Regions from separate parts of the Homo sapiens genome. Here all the other regions are linked to region 2. The links come from fine-mapping of genetic effects on gene expression. A gene starts in region 2. Each other region holds a variant in brackets. All regions are shown on one strand. Distances are from middle to middle.

Evidence for each region. PIP is the estimated chance that this variant, and not a neighbour inherited with it, causes the effect.
Region 1: its variant is the best candidate, but not a certain one, in a credible set for the expression of SCAMP1 in esophagus muscle (GTEx, PIP 0.58).
Region 3: its variant is the best candidate, but not a certain one, in a credible set for the expression of SCAMP1 in whole blood (INTERVAL, PIP 0.88).
Region 4: its variant is the best candidate, but not a certain one, in a credible set for the expression of SCAMP1 in monocytes after Pam3CSK4 (Quach 2016, PIP 0.58).

The regions. Positions count from the first base shown.
Region 1 is chr5:78,332,201-78,338,448 of GRCh38, forward strand. No RefSeq gene overlaps it. Among named protein-coding and RNA genes, the nearest start is that of SCAMP1-AS1, 25 kb to the right of the region's middle. The variant G/A (reference allele first, on the strand shown) is at 2,830.
Region 2 is chr5:78,357,139-78,363,386 of GRCh38, forward strand. It overlaps SCAMP1 (secretory carrier membrane protein 1), which reads left to right and starts at 3,479. Exons shown (of 9, transcript NM_004866.6): 1 at 3,479-3,590. The coding sequence starts at 3,534. It overlaps SCAMP1-AS1 (SCAMP1 antisense RNA 1), which reads right to left and starts at 3,403. Exons shown (of 2, transcript NR_105014.1): 1 at 3,076-3,403; 2 at 1,626-2,847. RefSeq lists enhancers at 2,531-3,127, 2,929-3,018, 3,049-3,208, 3,128-3,724, 4,119-4,238 and silencers at 3,389-3,478, 3,909-4,028.
Region 3 is chr5:78,462,905-78,469,152 of GRCh38, forward strand. The region is part of intron 8 of SCAMP1 (secretory carrier membrane protein 1); the gene reads left to right. Among named protein-coding and RNA genes, the nearest start is that of SCAMP1, 110 kb to the left of the region's middle. The variant G/A (reference allele first, on the strand shown) is at 3,067.
Region 4 is chr5:78,469,831-78,475,306 of GRCh38, forward strand. All of the region lies in intron 8 of SCAMP1 (secretory carrier membrane protein 1), which reads left to right. Among named protein-coding and RNA genes, the nearest start is that of SCAMP1, 110 kb to the left of the region's middle. The variant C/G (reference allele first, on the strand shown) is at 3,349.

The sequences.
Region 1 (6,248 bases), 25 kb before region 2:
AGGCCGGGCATGGTGGCTCACGCCTGTAATACCAGCACTTTGGGAGGCCAAAGAGGGTGGATCACGAAGGTCAGGAGTTTGAAACCAGCCTGGCCAACATGGGGAAACCCCTCTCTACTAAAAAAATTAGGCAGATGTGGTGGCACATGCCTGTAATCCCAGCTACTCGGGAAGCTGAGGCAGGAGAATCACTCGAACCCAGAAAGTGGAGGTTGTGGTGAGTGGAGATCATGCCATTACACTCCAGCCTGGGTGACAGAGCAAGACTCCATCTAAAAAAAAAAGAAAAAAAAAAGCTAGAAATAAATGAATCTGCAAGGAAAAAATAATGGAAAAATGAGAAAAGAGAAAGATTTTTATTTATTTATTTATTTATTTTTTGAGATGGAGTCTTGCCCTGTCACCCAGGCTGGAGTGCAATGGCATGATCTCAGCTCACTGCAACCTCTGCCTCCTGGGTTCAAGTGATTCTCTTGCCTCAGCCTCCTGAGTAGCTGGGATTATAGGCGTGCACCACCATGCCCGGCTAATTTTTTTTTATCCTTAGCAGAGACGGGGTTTCACCACGTTGGCCAGGCTGGTCTCGAGCTCCTGACCTTGTGATCTGCCCGCCTTGGCCTCCCAAAGTGCTAGGATTACAGGCGTGAGCCGCCATGCCTGGCCTGAGAAAGATTTTTTAATGAGTAAAGAAAGAAAAGAGTAGAGGAGAATATAAAGAAAACTGAGGGTTTTTTTCTATTTATGTATTTATATTTCCTTTTGCATACATTTACATTATGTTTTGGAAATAATATATTGACAATACAGAATGTTAATTCATGGAAGACAGTAGATCCTGAACCATGTTTGATAAAGATCTCGAAGTGTCTACTGCTCATAAGAGTACTGTTCTTGAATAATAACACACCTATCTTGAGAACCTGAATTTAACCATGCAGCATGCTCTCAACCTCCTAATGTTACTTAATCTAGAAAGAAATCATTATGTCTATTTTATAGAATAGAGTCCTGAGGCTTGAAAATGGTTACTTGTACGTATTACACGTTAGATATTTGATTCTGTTAGTCACTTATTATTCATCCTTTCTTTGATTGCTGGTAATTTTCATGGGCGTTCTGAAATCCCCTAACTTGGCCCTAACTGGACCAAGTGTGCCCTCCTTGGAGTTTTTTTCTTAGACACAGGAATTATTGCTGCTATTTAAGTCTGCCTATGCTAATCTTTAGACAAATAATGATTTATCTTGGTCCATGGTACTTTTTATGCATGTCTGTAAAAAAGAGTTTTGGTTGAAACATCCTATGAAAAAACATGCTTTACTATTAATATCTTCATAAAGCTGCCATGGAATAAAAAAATATTAACATGGAAAGCATAATAGCGATGTTGTATATTTGTATTATTTTATTTTATAATTTTTATTGTTAGAAAGTTAGAAAATACAGAAAAGCACAAAGAAAAATAATAATTGCCATGTGCCTGTAGTCCCAGCTATTCAGGAAGAAGAGGCAGGAGGCTCACTTGAGCCAAGGAATTTCAGGCTGTAGTGTGCCATGGTAAAGCTTGTGATTAGCCACTGCACTCCAGTCTGGGCAACATAGTGAGACCCTGTCTCAAAAATCATCAATATCATCGTCATTATCATCCATATTCACACCATCTCAAACAAACCACTATTATATTGGCATATTTTTCACATTTTTAAAAGAAAAATTAGTTTATTGAATGACTTACAGGAATTCAAACAACAGAACTGCACAAAAATAAAAGTTTGAAAATCACCTCAAATCTACCACCCAGAAATGACCATGATTAGCTTTAGAATAATATACATTAGCTTTATACTGTGTATATATACACATTCTTCTAAGCATACATACAGATAGAAAGAATACCTTTATAAGCATGGGGTCATGCCATTTATATAAACATCTTAAAATTAAACTTACTTGAATTTAATAGAAGAGAAATTGAAGGAATGGCTGAATTTCAAATAAATATTCCTCTATCACCACAAGATACATTATTTCCTGAAGAATTCTAAATACTCCAAAATATGAAAAGACTGCATTGTTGCACTTTTTATAAAGCCACGTTTTGATTGTATGTATCATCAGTGACTCCTTACTTTGAAAGATAAAAGCATTAACATCCTCGCACTCCTACTCATCTCTCCATCCCCTTCCTCCCCTAGCTCAAAACATTTACCTGTTATTTTTATCTTCATAAATCTCATTATTTTCTGCAGGCACAGCTAACATATTGAAAAATCTTCTGCCTACTACCTCTGCATTCTCAATTATTTTTTATATGGATGTAGTTACTCCTGAAAAGTCCCTCTCCTCACTGTCAACTACTAACCTAAAACTGCCACCACAACCCAGTGTTGGCTGCTCAAGACTTTCTTCCCCCGCCCCTGTCTCTCTAATAAGGCCCATGAGAAAGGTAAATGGAAAAATACCTAGAGGATGAGCAACTCCATAATTTCACTTAGCTTGAAGGGAGAGGGAAAGAAGCTGTGAACACACAGGCATTAATAATTTTGACCCTGTTAAATTTTTATAACAGTACAATTTTCTGGAATACTAGATATGGACAATAGAACTCAAATGATGCAACTGGCTTCAGAGAACTTACTGAAGAAGTTGGGGCAGGAGGTCCAGGAAGAATAGGGTCAAAGGCAGGGAGTGATGAGAAGGGCATTCTGTCTCTAGTTCTGCAGTGCACAGCAGAGGGGCTGGGCCCAGGACTCCCACCACAGGGCCGTGCAGCCAGCCAACTCATCTCCCTGCTTCCTGCACGTTTAAAGAGAAAGCTCAGTACTCACT[G/A]CTAAGCATCTGGCTTGACAGCAGGGAACATTCAGTTAATGGTAGTTCAGAGGAATTGCTGTGTTTGCAGCTGTTTCTTCTTGATAAAATAATTGTTGTTTCAAATGGGAAATTATTATGTGGAATCAGAATCAAATGTAAAAGCACTGTCGTAGCACAGTTTGATTTACTGGTATATAAATAGGTTTTGGGAAAAGAAGGTATAACATGAAAAAGTATGATCATTGGCTGGGTGTGGTGACTTATGCCTGTAATCCCAGCACTGTGGGAGGCTGAGGTGGGTGGATCACTTGAGGTCAGGCGTTCAAGATCAGCCTGGCCAACATGGTAAAATCCCGTCTCTACTAAAAATACAAAAATTACCCAGGTGTGGTGGTGGGCGCCAGTGGCTCCAGCTACTTGGGAGGCCGAGGCAGGAGAATTGCTTGATCTGGGGAGGCGGAGGTTGTGGTGAGCTGGGATTGCATCACTGCACTCCAGCCTGGGTGACAGAGTGATACTCTGTCTCAAAAAAAAAAAAAAAAAGGGAAAAGAAAGGAAAAGAAAAAGTATGATCATTATACATGGTGGATTAGCACTTTCCCAAAGATCCAAAGATAACAATGCCAGAGAGATGTGACATAGGACTGAAGCAGCGTGGTCACACATCAAATCAACAACTTCACATATTTTCTAACCCTGTTTCATGGAAGGCACACACACTCTTGAGAATGGTATATGGCAACCTGCTTTGCCCAGACTAAAAGCTCAGTCACTACTAGTAGGTACAGAAAAACTGTTAAAAACAATTATGTGTATTATTTTTAAACATTTCAAAAGTCTTGTGCCAAATGTCAAGCTGTGATTTACCTATAGTAACTATTAGTCGAAGAAATTAATGAATAAATTATTTTTGAATTAGTAGATTTTTTTTCCCTTTAACTCCGTAGTGCCCTCATTCTAGAAAGACATAATGCAACTTTTTTCTTAAAAGATCAGATAGTAAATATTTTTGGCTTGCAGGCTGTATGGTCTCTACTGAGACTACTCAGCTCTGGTGTTGTAGTGTGAAAGCAGACATAGACGATATGTGTACCAATGTGGATAGCTGTGTTCCAATAAAGCTGTATTTATAAAACAAGAGGCTGGGCTGGGCAGTCGGTTGCTGACTCTGGTTGGCTACACTCCCTGTTAGACATCTGGAGATCAGAGATTGTTGCTATGGCCTGTGAAAGCAATTCCTAGTCCTTAACAGGTTGTAAACTGGTGTTTATAATAATAATGTGTTCCCCTGGTAATAAAAACTTAAATTGACATCCCTGTTTTCTAGAAGACATAAATACTTATAAATTATCTTTGTTGAACAGAACAAGATTATTGGCCTTCTGTCTTTCCCTTGTGCCTGAAGGTAAAAGACAACGATTGTGTTACAGGTTTAGTTCTCTAGAAGCAAAGAGCAAGGCAGAGCTTTGGAAGCTAGATGTTTTATTAGGAATCAACACTTACGAAAAGTAAGGGAAGGGACCAGGTGTGGTGGCTCACACCTGTAATCCTAGCACTTTGGGAAGCCAAGGTGGGCTGATTGCCTGAGTCCAGGAGTTCGAGACCAGCCTGGGCAACATGATGAAACCCTGTCTCTACAAAAAAAAACAACAACAAAAATTAGCCATGTGTGGTAGTGGGCACCTGTAGTCCCAGCTATTTGACAGCCTGAGGTAGGAGGATCACTTGAACCTGGGAGGCAGAGGTTGCAGTGAACTGAGATTGTGCCACTGCACTTCATCTTGGGTGACAGAGCAAGACGGTGTCAAAAAAAAAAAAAAGAAGAGAAAGAAAGAAAGAAGGAAAGAAGACAGAGAGAGAGAAAGAAAGAAAGAAAAAGAGAAAGAAAGAAAGGAAAGAAAGAAAGAGAAAGAAAGAAGAAAGAAAGGAAGAAAGAAAGAAAAAGAAAGAAGAGAAAGGGAAGGGAAGGATGTGGGACTGGGTGAAAGGAGAAGTAGAGCTGCTATGCAGATTCGAAAAGCCTCATCTGATCTGGCACAGAATGTTGAGAGAATAGTATCAAGTGGCCAAGGCTTTATTACACCCTCACATAGTCATCAGATGCACACAGCCGTAGGAAGAGGAAGGTTTTGGGCAAAGCAGTTCTCTGGAAAAAGCTCATCACTAAAGACATCTGCTGACTGCCTGCCCATTGCCGGGCATCAAGTCCTTGAAGAGGCATCTGTGCAGGGAATCTTCGTATCTACCACAGAGAGCTAAATGTCTTAAGAAAACAAAAAGTCTGAAAGTGTGTCTTACATAAGTTAATACCAGTGATGGAGTAACTTGGAGAAAAACAGCCATATAGCCATTGAGCAGGTTAATTTCATCCTTTTCATTCTGTTTTCCCTTTTTGTATATAGAAATATTCCTCTTTTTTTGAGATGGAGTCTCACTCTGTCACCAGGCTGGAGTGCAGTGGCACGATCTTGGCTCACTGCAAGCTCCACCTCCCAGGTTCAAGCGATTCTCCTGCCTCAGTCTCTGACTAGCTGGGACTACAGGCATGCACCATCACGCCTAGGTAATTTTTGTATTTTTAGTAGAGACAGAGTTTCACCATGTTGGCCAGGATGGTTTCAATCTCTTGACCTCATGATTCACCCACCTCAGCCTCCCAAAGTGCTGGGATTACAGGCATGAGCCACCACGCCTGGCCCTCATTTTTAAAGAATAGTTTTGCTGGACATAGAATTCTTAGTCAACAGTCTTTTTTTTTTTTTTTTTTTGAAATGGAGTCTTGCACTATCATGCAGGTTGGAGTGCAGTGGTGCTGGAGTGCAATGGTGCGATCTTGGCTCACTGCAACCTCTACCTCCCAGGTTCAAGTGATTCTTGTGCCTCAGCCTCTCGGGTAGCTGGGATTACAGGTACCCGCAACCATGCCCAGCTAATTAGAGATGGGGTTTCACCATGTTGGCCAGGCTGGCCTTGAACTCCTGACCTCTAGTGATCCACCCACCCTTGGCCTCCCTAAGTGCTGGGATTACAGGCGTGAGCCACTGGAATTCTTGTTTGACAGTCTGTCTTTCAGCATCTTGAATCTGTCATCCCACTGCCTTCTGGCATCCATAGTTTCTGATGAGAAGTAAACTGTACATTATATTGAGTATTCCTTGTACTTGATGAGTCACTTTTTCCCTTGCTGCTTTCTAGTTTCTCTCTTTGTCTTTTGACAATTTGCCTATGATGTGTCTAGGTTTAGATCTCTTTGAGCTTATTCTACTTGGATTTTATTGCACTTCTTGGGTGTGTAGATTAACGTTTTTCAACAAATTTGGTTAGGTTTTTGTTATTTTTTGTATTTCTTTTTTTCTATCTTTTAAAGACTCTCATTAAGTGTAAGTTGGTATGTTTGATGGTGTCCATAGGTATCTCAGGATCTATTCATTTTACTT
Region 2 (6,248 bases):
ATATGGATGAATTCCTCACAAATGGCTTGGTGCTATTCTCCTGAGAGTGAGTTCTCATCCTTGAGAACAGGTTGTTCAAAAGAACCGAGAGTCAGCTTCTCCCTTTCTCTCCCCTGATGCCCCATCTTGCACTGTAGCCATGTGATCTCTGCACGAAGTCTCCCCTTTGCCTTCTGCATGAGTGGAAGCAGCATAAGGCCCTCATCTGAAGCTGACAGCCTGCAGAACCATGAGTCAAATAATCCTCTTTTCTTCATACATTATCCAGCCTCCCGTATTCCTTTATAGCAACACAAACAGATTAAGACCCTCACCCATGGACCATATGTCTGCATGTCCTCATATCAGTGTTCCCAAAAGTGTGATCAGCCACCACCAAAGTCATCTCAGGTTGGCCAAGCATGGTGGCTCATGCCTGTAATCCCAGCACTTTGGGAGGCAGAGGTGGCCTGGATCATTTGAGGTCAGGAGTTCGAGACCAGCCTGGCAAACAAAGTGAAACCCTATCTCTACTAAAAATACAAAAATTAGCCGGGTGTGGTGGTGCATGCCTGTAATCCCAGCTACTCGGGAGGCTGAGGCAGGAGAATTGCTTAAACAAGGGAGGTGGAGGTTGTAGTGAGCCACGATTGTGCCACTGCACTCCAGCCTGGGTGACAGAGTAAGACTCGGTCTCAAAAAAAAAAAAAAAAAAAATCACCTGAGATCCTTTACATATGCTGATTTTTGCAGTTGTTAAGAATAATGAATCAGATATATGGTTTCCATTAGGCCATGCTTCCCTTTTCACTCTATAGGCATGCTACACATAAAAAGTGATAATATTTATGTGGCATACTAGGGGAAGAAACCTTAAGACTGTCTCTCTGACAATGCACATCTTGCTGAGAAATTCTGCCATACGTATTGAGAAAAACAGCTGCAGAAAAATATACATATGATCTAACTTTTTCAAGACAATGCCAAAGCTCAGTATTAGAGTGTATGCATATCTGCATGAATATGTATTGTTTTTATACAATTACATGTTATTTTATGTAAGTGCAGATATACACTATTACAAGAATATTTAAAGAAATGTACTAGGTTGTTAATGTAGGGGAAGAGAAGAGGGAATACACGGAATAAAAATTTTTGTAAGTGAAAAATTCAATATGTATGTCATGACTCCATTTATACATTTATGTAAAATAATGTATAGAGATGTAAAAAATAAAAAATGCAGATCCAGAGCCCCTACCTCAGATCCTTTCAAGCGTAATCTTAGCAATAGGAGGTATGGTAAGGTGGGTGTCTGCATCTTCAACAGGTATTCCAAATGATTCTATAACAGTAAAGTCTGTAAACCTTTGCATTAGGTGCAAATATCATTAGCTGTAAACAGAACATAGTTGGAAATTTCCATCCTGCAATGCGGGCTCAGCTGACCCTCATTGTCTTGGAACATAGTAGATGCATAATAAATAGTGCAGATTATTTTGAGTCATTTGGAGGACAGGTGGAGGGAGTGAGGGCAAAAGTGGTGAGAGAAGCAGATGAGCTGGGCAAGGACATGCTTGCTCAGGAGAAGGGAGGCAAAGCGTATAAGAACATACTGAGCCTCCTTGCCACTTTCGACGTTCAACCAATATTTGTTAGGCACTAAATATACATGCAGGACACTTTTCTGTATGTTGTTTCATTTAATTCTTAAATAATCCTTTACAGACTCAGAGAGGTGAAGAGAGTAGCACAGGTAGTATCAGAATTGGGATTCAAACCTGACACATACACTGAGCACTAAGTTAAAACCGGGCACTGGGCAGCTGCTGAGGATGCGATGGTGAGTACAACAGACTGCTTGCTCTTTTTGATATCTAGAATCGTACAGCTCTGCTGTGCTCATCCTTGTCTGTTGTCATTTACTAGTTGACATCTTCGTTGACTACCTAGAAGCAGCTGCTTCGACATCTATCCCAACCTGAATCCCGTCAAAGGGAGATTACAACAAATGTGCTTTTTGTCTATCATCTCTAGCTAGTGTTTCACAGTGGGGGGAGTATCATTTCCTGGGTGACTTTGCATAGAGCAAGCTCCCCAAAGGCCAAGGAATACTCAATCTAGATTCTTCCAATCCTCCGGTACCCACCAAGTCAAAAGAATTCTGGCTCCCTGTAGCTTCATCTAAGTGCTTTTCTGTTAGAGGAGAAAAGTGAGGAAAGCGATGCTCTTTCAATAAGTTCGGCAGGGTGGGGCAAGGAATGGTACAAATTGATTTTTTTTTTTTCTTGAGACAGAGTCTCGCTCTGTCTCCCAGGCTGGAGTGCAGTGGCCCGGTCTCGGCTCACTGCGACCTCCACCTCCCGGATTCAAGCGATTCTCCTGCCTTAGCCTCCAGAGTAGCTGGGACTACAGGCGTACGCCACCACTCCCGGCTAATTTCTGTATTTTTAGTAGAGACGGGGGTTTCACCATATTGGCCAGGCTGGTTTCGAACTCATGACCTTGTGATTCGCCCGCCTCGGCCTCCCAAAGTGTTGGGATTACAGGCGTAAGCCACCGCGCCCGGCCGGTACAAATTAATTTAACACATCTTTTGATAATCTCATCCTTGGTGTTGGAAAAGACGGGAAAATCCAAAAGTGTCTATTTTGTGCCCAAATGCTCAAGTTAATACTCGAGGGCCTTGATCTCTGGCCTCTTGCCATCCCTCTCCCCATTATTTCTGAAGAAGTAGCCATTTTGCAGATTCCGGAGGATGGGAGCCACGGCCGGCCCCTGGTACTGAATCTCATCTCCTTCTCAAGGCTCCTTGGATCAAGTTGGGACCGGCAGCGCCAAGGCTGCTCTCCGTGATTTAGCAGCAACCTAGAGTCAGAGAGACCGGAAGATGGGAGGCCGGGATTCTCAGGTGGGGTCAGGGGTATGCAAAAATCCTTAGCAGCGGCCGCGCCCCCGCCCCGGGGAGGTAATTTGCGGAGGGCGGTGCAGTAGCCTCTCCAGTGCCCGCGTCCCACGGTCTAACGGCACTGCTCCCGGGGTGCGCGGCCCACGACTCAGGCTGCCTCCCCCAACCTGACAAGTGTGCGTCCTTACCACAAAATGCCACCACTTCCCTAAGTGACGCTGGGCCCCGAGGACCTGATTTGAAATCGGTGTTCAGAAGACCGAGCCCGGCTGGACGCAGCTGGCCTCCGGCTGAGAGCGGAGGGGAAGGGTTCCATACTCTCCGAGGATCCCGCGGGCTCGTGGCGTGTGGAACGCTTTTCATCGCTTTCAGTTCCCGTTTCCTTCGCCCCGACTGCCTACTCGGTCGCAGCTAAAGCCCGGAGCGTGGGATCCGGGCCCGGAGGAACGGGATGGCGAACGCGAGCTGCGCCGCGGCCAGGAGCCCGCCGCACCGGGCATGCTCAGTGGCGCGGCCGGCTGGGTGGCCCGCGAGCTGCACCCGGATCTGCTCGGCGGCGGCGACGTGAGCGCGCAGGGGGGCGGCGGCCTCGCCTCGTCTCTCTCTCTGCGCCTGGGTCGGGTGGGTGACGCCGAGAGCCAGAGAGATGTCGGATTTCGACAGTAACCCGTTTGCCGACCCGGATCTCAACAATCCCTTCAAGGTGAGCTTCGGCCCCAGCATCTCCTGCCGCCGCGACGCGTCGTTGTTTGTGAAAACGGACGAGTTCCTTCGCGCCCACTGCGTCTGCCCCTCGGCTCCCCTTAGCAGCCCAGAGAGGGGCGCGGGGCCGCCGTCCTCCATTTGGGGTCGCGCCCCGGCCCCGTGTCACTCCTTTGGGTTTTGGGGCTTGGGGGTGGAACCTCCTCAGCTCGTGCCCGGTCGCCCTTCCACACGTCCCCGACTGGTGAGGGTCGTGTCTGCAGCCGGGACTGGGCCCGCGCGCCCGGAGGGGTCCTGGCCCGCCTCTCAGGAGAGAAAGCCGAGGGCAGGTAGAGTCGCCCCTTGCCAAGCAAGTGTGGCTGGCAGGGCCGGGAGTCGGCGGAGGGGGGCCCGCCCTGGGGTGGGGTTGTCATGGGGACCCGAGGTGGCGGCGGCGGAGAGCTGCGTGGGGTGATGGCAGAGGTGTGGAGGAGGAGAGAGGTGAGGGCACCGAGTATGCTGCAATTAAAAAAAAAAAGGTTATGTTTTTATTTTTTAAACTTGTGTTGCACCCAAATACCACCAGTGGCGCTGCCATCCCCCCTCTTTCTGTTAGGTTGAGGTTGAGGTTATTGATACCAAAGCAAAACTTAAAAATAAACATATCTGGAAAACAATAGTGCACGTGGACGACCTCTTCCCTACCCAGCTGCTTCTAGCAAGGTAAACGATGGGATATTTTCCAAGCTCCTAGTGCGTCACCGGTTCTCTGGGCTATGTGAGGATACCATTTCCTACTTGAGCTGCTTTTCTTCTTGGAGTCGACCTTATCAACCCCGGCTTCGGAAGGGCTTGGCACAGAATCCTGCAAAGGAAGGCGGCTGAGATATTCATCGTCTGCGTTTAAATGAATGCAACATCTAAATAACTCTCTCTTTGAAAGTATTCTGAATTTCCTAATGAGTGTAACTGTTAGCACGTGTAATTTGTTTCCAACTGTTGGTTGAAGTTGTTTCTCAATCCCCCCGGCCATGTGCAGTAGTAACTTTAATTTGCAGTCACACAGAATAAAACAGGAACTCTAATTTGTGGTCACACAAGTGTCACTTCTGGCTTGTTGAGTTTACATCTTTTTACTCCTGGTTTTATCTTTCATTAAGAATCCTGGAAGAGGAAAACTATTTCTGCTCTGATTATTAAATGCCTGATAATTCCAAGGAGGATTATTTTAATGAAATGACCCTGATTATTATTGACAACTCGACTCACTTTGTAGCAGTGTAGAATTAGACTCAGTCACTGTTTCATTGTCCCTAATGTCACTTAAAATTCAGTACAACTGGCCTGTACCTTTCAGTGACATGGTTGCATTTTAAGACTTTTTTTTTTTTCCTGGCAGTTTTGTTTCAATTAGTATTGGACTTGCTTCCATGTTGTGGAAAATCAGGTAGTTCTTAAATGGTAGACTTTCTAAAGAGACCGTTCATAAATTGTTAAATGGGTGTTATTTTAAAATATTTTGAAGATAAAACATCAAGAACCTTTTAGCCTTTCCTAATTCAGATAATTCACTGACGCTGTTTATTCAGCATCTGACGATTTGGCAGTGTATTTTCTACTTGGTCATTCCATTTCATGGTTCATTTCATATTAACTGGCTCTCTTGTTAGGGCAAAACATTGTCTTCATCTTAGCCCAGACTGTCCTTTTGTGACATCTGATATTGCCATGACACTTTTCCTCTTCTGACATTCATAAAGTTGCTGTAGTAATTCTAAACCCAGGAGTTGTTTTAAATATTCATTGTGGCATAACGTTATAAATCTTTTTTGTTCTTTTATAAGTGGATGTATCCAGGACAATGATTATTCAAGTTTGTAAAATGCATCAGGGACAGATCATTTAGGTCTAAAGTAGACTTGGTTGTACACATATTTCTGCTTATGATCTTTCTCTGTTTTTGGTGACTGTTATAGCACTGTCAGTGTATCTGACCCTTTATTTTTCCATTTATGTTCACCTGCCCCTCCTCCTCACAAAGTATAGTTTTATATCTATATTTTGTCTTTTTACTTCTGCTTATATTTATGTAAAAGTGATTTTTGAAATAACATTTCTGATACTCTACTTAAATCTGAAATGTTTCTAGAATCATTTGAGTTACTTTATGATCATTTTTCTTTTTTTACTTTTTTTTTTTTTTTGAGACGGAGTCTTGCACTGTTGCCCCGGCTGGAGTGCAATGGCGTGATCTCAACTCACCACAACCTCTGCCTCCCGTGTTCAAGTGATTCTCCTGCCTCAACCTCCCTAGTAGCTGGTATTACAGGTGCCCGCCACCACACCCGGCTAATTCTTTGTATTTTTAGTAGAGACAGGGTTTCATTGTATTGGCCAGGCTGGTCTTGAACTCCTGACCTCGTGATCCACCTGCCTCAGTCTCCCAAAGTGCTGGGATTACGGGCGGGAGCCACTGCGTTCAAGCAGATCGTTTTTCTTTCTTTCTTTCTTTCTTTTTTTTTTTGAGACGGAGTCTCCCTCTGTCGCCCAGGTTGGAGTGCAGTGGCGCGATCTCTGCTCACTGCAAGCGCTGCCTCCTGGGTTCACACCATTCTCCTGCCTCAGACTCCCAAGTAGCTGGGACTACAGGCGCCCGCCACCACCGGCTGATTTTTTGTAT
Region 3 (6,248 bases), 110 kb after region 2:
ACTTTTTGATAGGTCTCACTTTAAAGAAAATAAGTCCTTATAATTTTTTTTACCATTTCATTACTTGAGACTATGTATGAGGAATGCATAGAAATAATTTTACCTTATATTTAAAACCACTTTTACTCTTTCAGTACTTTACTCAGACATTTGTCTTTTATCCTTCTCAAAACCCTACGAAGGTTAGACTGTGTCCGTTCTTCCATATTTTCTCTATTTGAAATTTTTAACTTCTCTTCTGCACCAAACACACATACCATTGACACTCAGCTCTCTAATGTTACTAAATCCCTTTTCCAGTTTTCCTCCTCCTTAACCTCTGTAGCTTTCTACACCACAGATGGCTCCTCTGCTAAGACTTTGCAATGATGTTCTAATTCTCTTGACTCTCTGGCTATTCTTTCTCCTCCATTTCTTCATCCAGTTCATAAATTAAGGTCTTAAATGTAATCGGCTCTTTGTGCTATGCAGTCATTTTCTTTGGGAATTTCATCTTCCCTTATTATTTCAGTTTCTTCTCTACCTAGATGACCTAGAATCTTGGAATTGGAAAAGATAATGCATTGCATAAACCTTTAGTTGCATCTTCAATTGGTCATTTTCATCTCCAGTTGTTGATTGATGTCATCTTCTCACAGTAATGCCTCATAAACTCTTCAGTTTCTTAGTGATAGATGTTCCTTTTGAACGTTCTGAGTAATATTCAAGAAGCATTTATTAAGACCACATATTGTATAGATTCCATTATTGTGAAATGTATAAAATGGGCAAATATATAGAGACAGAAAATGTATTACAGCTTGCCTGTGGCTTATGGGTGGGGTGGGGAGTGAGGGTAATGAAAGTATTCTAAAATTAGGTTGTGTAGATATTATAGTCACAACTCTATGAATATACTAAAAATCATTGAATTGTACACTTTAAAGGGTAAAATGCATAGTATACAGATTTTATCTTAATGAAGCTTTTTTTTTTGAAGAAACACTTATTGAATACCTACTAATGAGATGGCACTAAGCACTTTATGTAATTCCATTGAACATTTTTGTCAGTGCTGTGATTGCTTCTGTCAGTGCTTCCATTACTTCTTTTTTGAGACAGAATCTGTCTGTCGCCAGGCTGGAGTGCAGTGGCGCGATCTTGGCTCACTGCAGCCTCCGCCTCCCGGGTTCAAGCGATTCTCCTGACTCAGCCTCCCAAGTAGCTGGGACTACAGGCATGCGCCACCACACTCAGCTATTTTTTTTTTTCTTTTTTTGAGATAGAGTCTTGCTCTGTCACCAGGCTGGAGTGTGATGGCGTGATCTCTGCTCACTGCAGCCTCCAACTCCCTGGTTCAAGCAGTTCTCCTGCCTCAGCCTCCTGAGTAGCTGGGATTACAGGCATGTGCCACCATGCCTGGCTAATTTTTGTATTTTTAGTAGAGACAGGGTTTCACCATGTTGGCCAGGATGCTCTTGATCTCCTGACCTCGTGTTCTGCCTACTGGGATTACAGGCATGAGCCACCACGCACAGCCACTTCCATTACTTTTTAATTCACTTTCTTAGATACCTTTTTAGTATCTTTTCCATTTCCAACCTCAGCTAATCCAGAAATTCTTTTTACAGGTTACTTATATTCCCTCATCCTTCTCGCAGTCCATTTAATATATAATTCCTATATTAACCTTAAAAAAACCCCAACAAATTGGCACTCTGCAGATTTTTGACGTGGATCTGGGATTGGGAACGGCATTTTGGTGGCAGTGCGAAGAAGGGCTACATTCAGAAACACCAGCATTGCTAAGGTTGTAAAAACACACTACATGCCATAAAGCCATCAAATGGGCCTTAATAACCTAATGATGAAATCACTTTTATTTTGCTCAGCCATACTCTGGGCCCTATGCAGAACACTTCACCAGTATTATGCCATTTTGTCCTCTCGGAGAATCACAGATTGGGATTATAGTGGTGGTGGGAAGAAGGGCTAATGGTGACGTCTCACAGCTCCATGATTCACACTTTCTATTCTTGTCAGACTGTACTGCTCGGTTTCTTCAAATACATCATGTACATTCCTTTGTTCCAGATTTTGTTTATATGATGTTTTTTAATCCGTGCATTAATTCGTCTTCTCTGCTATTTGAAGACCTACTAGTATTCTTTCAAGACCCAGCTCCGATCTTGCTGTGTCTCCCAGAATGTTTTTTGTTGCCTTGTATCTTAGGGACCATGTCATTCTCTGTTTTCTTGGGGAAACTTAACTGTCTATATTGCTTACTGTGGCACCTGGGCATAAGCCAGTTTTTATGCCTTATGGTGCATGTATTCTGGGTACGCAGCTGTTAAGCACCCCCCGCGTGAACAAGTCTTTTAGCATTGGAATTAGATGAGAAGAGCAAGAGTTTTGCTTTGGAACCATACAACTCAGGTTGAAATTTTGACAGCTTCACTTACAGCTCTGTGACCTGAGACAGACTTCTGTAACCACTCAGGTTTGGTGTCCTCAACTGTACTCCAAGCTGCGTGAGAGTGGAGACCTGTTCTGTATGCTTTCAGGTTGTAATTCTCACATCTGGAACAGTGACATGCAGTGATTGGCATGTGATAGGCACTCAGATATTTGTTGAATAAAAGAAGGAATGGGAAGAGTAACCACTTTCATAGGGTTGGTGTGAGGATTAAATGAAACAGTGAATGTAAACTGCATAGAATAGGGCCTTCTCAGTTAATAGTTTTCCTTTCTGATCTTGACCTTTTTATCATTTTATATTCAGGGTCTGGTTTAGTGTCTACTTTTGTTTAGTAGATGCCTTTATCAGTCAGCATGCTATCAGAAACAGAAAGAATGAAAAGGTTAATTGCGGGGAATTGGCTGGTGAGGTCAGTCTGATATCAAGAGGGCAGGCCGGAACTCTCAGGCAGAAGTTGAAACTCTGGTCCACAAGTGGGATTTCTTCTTCCTCAGAGGAACTCCAGTTGTGTTCTTAAGGCCTTTCAACAGATTGGATGGGGCATACCCAGATAATCTAGAACACTCTTCTTAAAGTCAACTGAAGGCAGATGCCGATTACATCTACAA[G/A]ATACCTTCACAGCGGCACCTAGGTTAGTGTTTGATTGAATAATTGGAGACTGCGGCCTAGCCAAATTAACATGTAACACTGACCATCACAGCACCATTCTTTGGAGAATTCCTTTATTATTTCACATGTATTATTGAGGGTGTTTTATAGAAGTAGAAATGTAATACATTTTGAGTATAGTAGAGGGTTTTGTGGTGTGTGGCAGTTTTCACTCATTTGTTAAACAGCTGTTATTGAGCATATATTACGTGCCAGGCACTGGGCTGTGCATGAGCTCAGAGAGATCACCTGTTGGTGAGGAAGAGAAATAAATTGGTGGGCCCCCCAATTCAGTTATTTAATGGCCATGATAGAGGTAAGTATAGGGAGCAGAGGGACACCTATCAGGTTTTGGAGGTCTTTTTAAGTATTGCCTCAGCTGAGATATAATGATGGCTGCTCATCATTATAGTTATCTAAGCAAAAGAATAAGGGACAGGGAAGAGGATAAGAGGGATAAGGAGGTACCAGAGAGTGGGGATACCACGTTCACATCTAGTTGTAGGAAATAACATGGCAAATTCAGGGAATTAAATGTAGCTCAGAATGGATGGGAGATAAAACATGGTGTGTGAGCTGGGGCTAGGAGAATTGTAGGTTGTTGGTATTGGAAGATGAAATTGAACACGTAAGTATAGTTTTATCCTACAGGGTCTTGTTAAGAAGTTTAAATCTTCTCCAAAAAGTGGTAGTGAGCCATAGAAGAGTTTTAAGGAGGAGAGTAATTGAATTGATTAGATTTGAATTTTAGAAGCATTTATTCTGAAATACATTTGGGATTTGCGGGGCCGAGCAGTCGTACTTGGAAACACTTAGGAGACGGGCTAGGAAGCTGATTAGTAATGATGGTGGCCTGAACTGAGGAAATGTGAAGAAAATGTAGTCAAGAGAAAACGAGCAGGTAAGGATTAATCCAACTGGGCCTGGAAGTAGGGGACAAGATAAGACTCAAGGATGACACCCAGGTTTTTAGATGATGGACCATTCAAGAAGAGAGTACAAGAAAAATGGTTTGGGGATCAAGATGTTTTCCACGTTGACCTTGAATTTGGGGAGTTTAAATTAACTGGTGGGGCATTAAAATATAAATATTGAGTAGGCTTTTGTATATATGAGTTAGGAGCAAGGGAAGAACTTTAGGCTGGATTTCTAGACTGGAAAGTATTGACTTGTTGAAGTAAATGAAGCCTAGAAAGTGTATGGAGTCAGAAGAGGGCTTTGGGGAGAATACTCACAACAATTAAGACTCTGCTGTGGGTGAAGTATAAAGGGAACTTTAACCATCACTGGCAGTGGTTGAGGAATGTGTGGCACAGATGATCAATAGAGCCAGGGTGTGGAGGAAGTGTTTATTCTGTAGCTGTTCTATAATGAACTACTCTGTGCACACTCTGAATACTTTGACCAGCAGTTTTTTTCCTTTCCATTTTCCAGGTATACAGTTTTTCAGGATCCACCACACAAAGGAAAAGTTATAGAATGGTGCTCATATGCCAGGCATTGAAAAGAAATATGACTTTCTCGAATAAAAGTATTGATATGGATATCATGCAGCATACTCTAATATTTTGTTGTTGTTGTTGTTTTTACCTCATAGTTAAAGAAGTTACCAGAACTTCTGTTTATATGTGTTCACAAGTTCCTAAACTTCTCTGGGTCTCAGATTCTTTATCTGTGAAATAAGGAGTTTAGATGAGATGATTTTCTGTATGATTTTATGAAGTACGATAGGGATACTATAAGCTAAAATATAATTTGCACCAGCTTTCATATTTTAATAGCAGGCATTTCTCTTGCTGTAATAGAAATTAAGATCCAATTTTAAAAACCTAATTTTTCCTTTTTAATTTTCTGTTTCACACTTGGTCAAAACTGGCAGTTTAATGACAAAAAATCCTTTGCAGGTATGTAGCAGTATTTATAACCACTAGGGGTCATGCTTTTCAAGAACAGTTAATGCCCTCTAACCGTAATCTGTGCACGGTTTTGACTCTAGAATTGTTGGGTTTTATTAAGCTGTTCTTCTCTTAAGGTAAATGTGCTCTGTCCTATATATTTATCCTAATTGAAGTGAATAGGATTTTGGTAATTTCGTTGGCTTTCTGTTGTCTTGCATAACTGAAGTGGGTCATCATTGGTGCTGCAGGGCCCAGTATGAGATTGTGCTGTTTGTTTCCCCCACAGTGTTGTTTTATACTCCACATTTCAAATATTGAAAGAATATATGTCTCCTATACATCTGCATGGAGAAGGGTCTAGTTTAGTCCTTATCTTTCACAAATAGATTTCTTGTTTTCTTTCAGATTATTTCCAAATGGTGTTTTTACAAAAGCTCCTCTTTCTATTAGAACTATCAGAAAGAATTGAGTAATGGTTTTGGGCCAAGCAGGGAGTTGTTATAAATGTGTCAAATAACAGTAAATGAATGCATCACAGGAGACTATGGATCAGGGAATCCAAAACTTTTCCCTTCTGTTAATTGGTATGGCTAGAATAACTTAATATGGAAGTAATTAATAGATGATATATCATTTGTATTCCTTTTGGGACCTGATTTTGAATGATTATCACTTCCATGAAATTTGTTCATAGACTGTCATGTTCACATTAAGTAGTTTTTAATAGTGAATTTTTTGCATTTTGAAAGAATTTTAGAAAAAAGTTATTTTACCTCTTTAAAAAACAAGTTTTCTGAAGTGTTTCAAATCTTGTTTATTTACTACAGTATATATTCTGCAGATACTCATTTTTGTGGGAGCGCTGAATTGGGTCTATGATAGAGAACACTGTGATTAAGTCTCATTAGTTGGTGTTTTATGGTAAATGCTTTGTGAAGATATCCTATTATATATAAAGTGATAGTTTTCTTAGGTGAAAAGTGACTCTTACAGTTATCCCTCTATATGCAGGGGATTGGTTTCAGAACCCACACATCCATATACCAAATCTATGCATACTCAAGTCTTGGAGTCAGCCCTGCAGAACCCATGTATACAAAAAGCCTTCTGTGTACTTGGGTTTTACATCCCATGAATACTGTATTTTCTATGTGAGTTTGGTTGGAAAAAAATCACATATTATAAGTGGACCTGCCCAGTTCAAGGATTATCATCTATACTTTCTTGAAAATATTGTTATCATT
Region 4 (5,476 bases), 110 kb after region 2:
GAGTTTGAGATCAGCCTGGGCAACATAATGAGACTACCCTCCAACCCCTTACAAGACATTAAAAAAAAAAAAAAAAAAAAAACAAAAAAAAAAAAAAAAAAACAACAACACAGCCCAGGCATGGTGGTGTGAGTTTATTGTCCTAGCTGTTGGAGAGACTGAGGTGGGAGGATCACTTGAACCCAGGAGTTTGAGGCTGCAGTGAGCTATGATTGCATACCACTACACTCCAGCCTGGGCTACTGAGTGAGACCTTGTCTCTAAAAAATACAAAATAATTTAAAAAAACCTAAAGTATACAATTTAATGGCTTTTGGTGTATTGTATTTGTTTTAATTGTGGCAAAATATGTATAACATAAACTTTGACATTTTAATTACATTTAGGTATACAATTCAGTGGCATCAATTACATTCACAGTGTTGTACAACCATTACTAATGTCTATTTCCAGAACTTTGCATCACCCCAAACAGAAACTCTAATCATTAAGCAATAATTTTATTCCTCCCTATTCTCAGCCTCTGGCAGCCTCTAATTTGCTATGAATTGCCTATTTTAGATATTTCATATAAATGGAGTTATACAATATTTTCCTTTTGTACTTGGCTTCTTTCATTACCATAATGTTTTCAAGGTTCATCCGTGTTGCAGCATGTATCAGAAATGCATTCATTTTTAAGACTGAATAATATTCCATTGTATCTGTATACTACATTGTTTATCTGTTGATGGGCATTTGAGATTTTCCCACCTTTTGGCTATTGTGAATAGTGCTGCCGTGAACATTGGTGTACAGTTATCTGTTTGAGTCTTTGCTTTTACCTCTCTTGTGTACATATATACCCAATGTGGAATTCCTATGTAGTCTTATAGTAATTCTATGTTTAGGTTTTTGAGGCACCTCCAAACTCTTTTCTGGAAGGACTGTATCATTTTACATTCCCACCAGCACTTTCTCTACATCCTTGCCAACACTTGTGATTTTCCGTTTTTCTCATTCCAGCCATCCTAGCAGGTGTGAAGTAGTTGTATACTTTAAAAACATTTAACCTCTGAGGTGACTGCAAACTAAGCATTTTACTTTGTAACACAGGTATAGTCTCCTTAAGCCATATTGCACTTATTTGGTACCTTCTAAAAATTATTATTAATGAGGACAATTTTGGAACATTTAATCCTCAGCAGGTAGTAATAATAATTATTCAGTGGCTTCTACTGCAGATTACTAAGCTGTGTCTTTTAGGGGGTGTAACAATGAGTAGAATTAGTTCTTGCCCTTAGGCAAGTAAAAGCATGTAGGATATAATACAAAATGGACAGAAACCCTGTAAAAGAAAAAGTACATACATGCTCCCCAAAATGTACAAAGGATTGGCGGTACTCTCAATAGGGAAAGCCATAGCTAGTTCAGGCACAAAATGGCAGACAGAGCATTATTTGAGATAGTGCTTAAAGGGTGCGTGAGATTTCGACATGGTGAAACTAGACTGGCAATTCAAGGGGTTACAAAAGGGATATCTGACCCATCTGTGGGCAGGAGGGTTCATAGAGGGTTTCCAGAAATTTCAAACTGAAAATATTAGGCTTAGACGTCCATACTTTTTTAAAAACTCAAAACAAGAATTTAAAAAATATATTTAAAAAACTCATTTGTTTTTATTTTCCCAGCTTTTATAAAAGTTGAAATAATTTTGGCATGACAGGGATCTTAATAAAAGCACAGTTTCTTGAAATGGTATTCTATATGTTTTAATGAAGACATATGTTTGGGTTATTTAAATAAAGTGCCATTATTCTTTACTTCCCACACGATACAGTTTTTCTGTGTCATATACCACCACAGCATGTATTGTCTCTGAAGCTGCATTAAGGAGGCAGGACTCCTTTATGGAGCCGCATCTACATTTTGGCTGTGACACTTCGGCAGATACTTAAAAATTAATTTAACTTATGTTAGTGTAACTCATTTATATACATTCTGATTTGATCTTTAGGAAAACTCAGAGGAGCAGATAGTGTAACAAATATTCTTTTTTTATGGGAAGCAGACTTGAAGTTTTGAGTGGTGGCCAGCCAGCTAGAAAGTAGTGGAATTAGTATATACCAAATTTAATGCCTTTTCTGTGATTTTCCTAGAACTAAATATTATTTTAGGAGTAATGCAGTTCTCATAAGTAGAAAAGATAGTATTTAAGTTGTTTAATTTTTTTTTTGAATTCTCTAGGCTATTCTGCATTTATGGAATTTTCCACTAGGTAATATGCATTCAGGTCACATACACAGTGAGATTTTCTAAAGTGACAGTACAGATAAAAAGGCTGTGCAACTTGGTGATAATTGTGCTCCATTTAAGCAACCATCAACTGGTGCATTTTTTTAAAGATAAATTAGATTTTATCAAAATTGAAATATTTTTTCTTTTTGATACTTTATGTTCTGGGATACATGTGCAGAACATGCAGGTTTGTTATGGGTATACATGTGCCATGGTGGTTTGCTGCACCCATCAACCCATTATCTACATTAGGTATTTCTCCTAACGCTATGCCTCCCCTTGCCCCCCACCCCCAAGTTGTGTAATTTTTTAAAAAAAATTATAGTACTTGGTGTCAAAACCTTGTCCCTGATATCAGCAGTATGAATTATTAATAGATACCATCTGAAACCCTGGAGGGAAGTAATAAGCTTTTAAAGATGTTCATCCTGATGATTAGCCTGTCATCTTTCATGGGGCCCTGAAATCAAGAATCCACCCTTTTTCACATGGATATAATGGATTTAATACAGTATTTAGCATTATGCACTGTATATATATGTGGTCTTTTCCCTCTAGGTGGCTCTCTGGGTCTATATAGATACAAACTATTGAGAAATGTGGCTATTCCTACCTTTATTTTGCTTCTGTGTTCTGTGGGACTGTGAATTACATTTTAGTAAACTGTGAAGCCCATGAACACATAGTATCAGCTGCTCAATTTAGTGCAAGTTTGAAAAAGGAAATAATAAAGCAAATAAGAATTAACATTTATTTATTACATGCTCACAAACTTGGGGGAAGAGGGGAAGAGACAGACAAGTGAATCCAATTGCATTGCTCTGGTTTGGTCTAGTAAGTAAAGAAGGTTGATAAGATTTCTATAATACACTTCATTTTCTAGGATCCAGTCATTTGTACTCACTTTGAGATAAGTGTCTGGAACATAGGAGTAGTGATTTATCTATATCTTTAATTTTCCATAGAAAACTTGGTTTTAAAAGGGAATAAAAATAATTACTTTTATACTTAATGATAGTGCTAAGGTACTAGGGGAAAGGAATCTTTGGATTTACCAGTATATGTATTTGT[C/G]AGTGCTCTTTTTCTTCCTGACCATTTGACACTTTGATCTGTAGTAATATGGCGTTTGCTTTTACCACTGTATCAGAAGCACTCAGGGCTGTGTGGGTTATTTTTGTCTTGTACCGTGATAGATTTTCATGCATTAACTTGCTTTCTTGATAGTTTTTCTGACAGCTTTTCATGTGTTAACATGCTTTCTTCTCTTGGCATCAGTGAGAAGTATCTGTATCTGGTTCTTCCCTTTCCTCTCCCAGTCATTCTTTCTTCTTGTGGATGCCTCTTAAATAGTGTCTTTTTAAAACAATTTCAAGTTTTATTTTAGATTCAGGGGATACATGTGCAGGTTTGTTACAAGGGTATATTATGTGATACTGAGGTTTGGGGGACAGTTGAGCCTGTCATCCAGGTAGTGAGCATAGTACCCAATTGGTAGTTTTTCAACTCTTCTCCCCCTCCCACCTTCCCCTATCTTTTAAGTCCCCAATATCTATCGTTGCCATCTTTATGTCCATGTATACCCAATGTTTAGCTCCCACTTAAAAGTGAGAACATGTGATATTTGGTTTTCTGTTTCTGCATTAATTAGGTTATATACTTGATTTTATTCTCTTTCTACTCTGGGTTCTCCATAGACAGTTTCATAAATGCCAAGGTTTCAGCTATCATTTATATGTTGTTTTAGTCCCTTTGGGCTGCTATAACAAAAATACCATAGATTGGGTAGCTTAAACAACAGATAATGATTTCTCATAGTTCTAGAGGCTGAGAAGTCCAAGATAAGAAAGACACTGACAAATTCAGTATCTCAGGGGGGCCAACTTCCTGGTTCATAGACAGTTTCTGTGTCCTTTTGTGATGGAAGGTTGTCAGAGAGATCTCTGGAGTCTCTTTAAAAAAAAAAAAAAGTTCTTTTTGGAGACGTATATTGCCCAGGTTGGAGTGGAAGGCTGGGACCATAGGTGTGTGCCACCACACTGGGCCTTGGGGGTCTCTTTTATAAGGGCATTTATTCCATTAATGCAAGCTTCACCTTCATGGCAAAATCACCCCCGAAAAGGCCTGCCTGCTAATACCATCATATTGGTGGTTGGGATTTTAACATAAGAATTTTGGGGGGAACACAAACATTCAGTCCATAACATATGCCGTTGGTTTCCAAGTCCATGTCTTTAGCCCATTCCTCTCCCAAGCTTTGAACCAAACCTTTACCTGCCTGCTGTGGCAGGCCTAGAGTAGGTTGTCAGTAGAGTTGGAATGAATGAACAAATGTTTAGAACTTATCATCTGCCTTCTCCCCAAACCAGCCTATCCTCTCTTTTCTCTGTCTTCTTGAAACTACTTTCCCAAATGCAAGCTTGCTTTGAGAATCTTTGACTCATTCTTTTTCTTACCTCACAGTTACCAGTTCCTATCCAGGTTTGGAAAAAATACTGACTTGGATGCATTGGCCCTTCCCTAAGCCTGCTTTGATTGCATTCCAGTCAAGCTTCTAATTTAGATCCAGTCACAGTGCAGTGTAATTACCAGTATCTTTCTGTCCCCACTCTGCGAAGTTTGTGGGCATATAATTAATAAATGTTTGTTATTTCCTTCTTCAAATTTGTGTTAAAATAAGTGGCTGATGTTATGTATTGATGGACTCATAGTTTAATTATGCAGGTTTTAAGACATATACTGATAGAAAATTTTTGAACCCTACTCCTGAAAATAAATTCCAAGATTTGAGTGATTAATCAGTATGGAGAAACAATTCCCAGAAGTGTTTCTTTGTGCATTCTTTAGGACTTGACCATACACAAAAAGTTAAATTGTATACAGAGTGCATAGCGGCAATATGTTGAAGGACATAAGTAGTGCTTGGTACATTAAATGATAAAATGATCTCATTTGATTATAACAGGGCCTGTGGTGTATATGTAGATAAAATGGAAATAGATAAGGTACTGTTCTCTCTGAATAGTCTGGGGTAATAAATTAATGTATTGTTTCTTGTTATTATGTTTAAACCATTTCATTGTAATGCTGTAATAATTTCACTTGACTAATTGGGTGCAGAGGAAAATACAACTTTTTGAAGTTGGCTAAGAAGTTCTTTATTTTTGGTTTAAATTAGCATAATTATCTCTTCTGCTTGGAG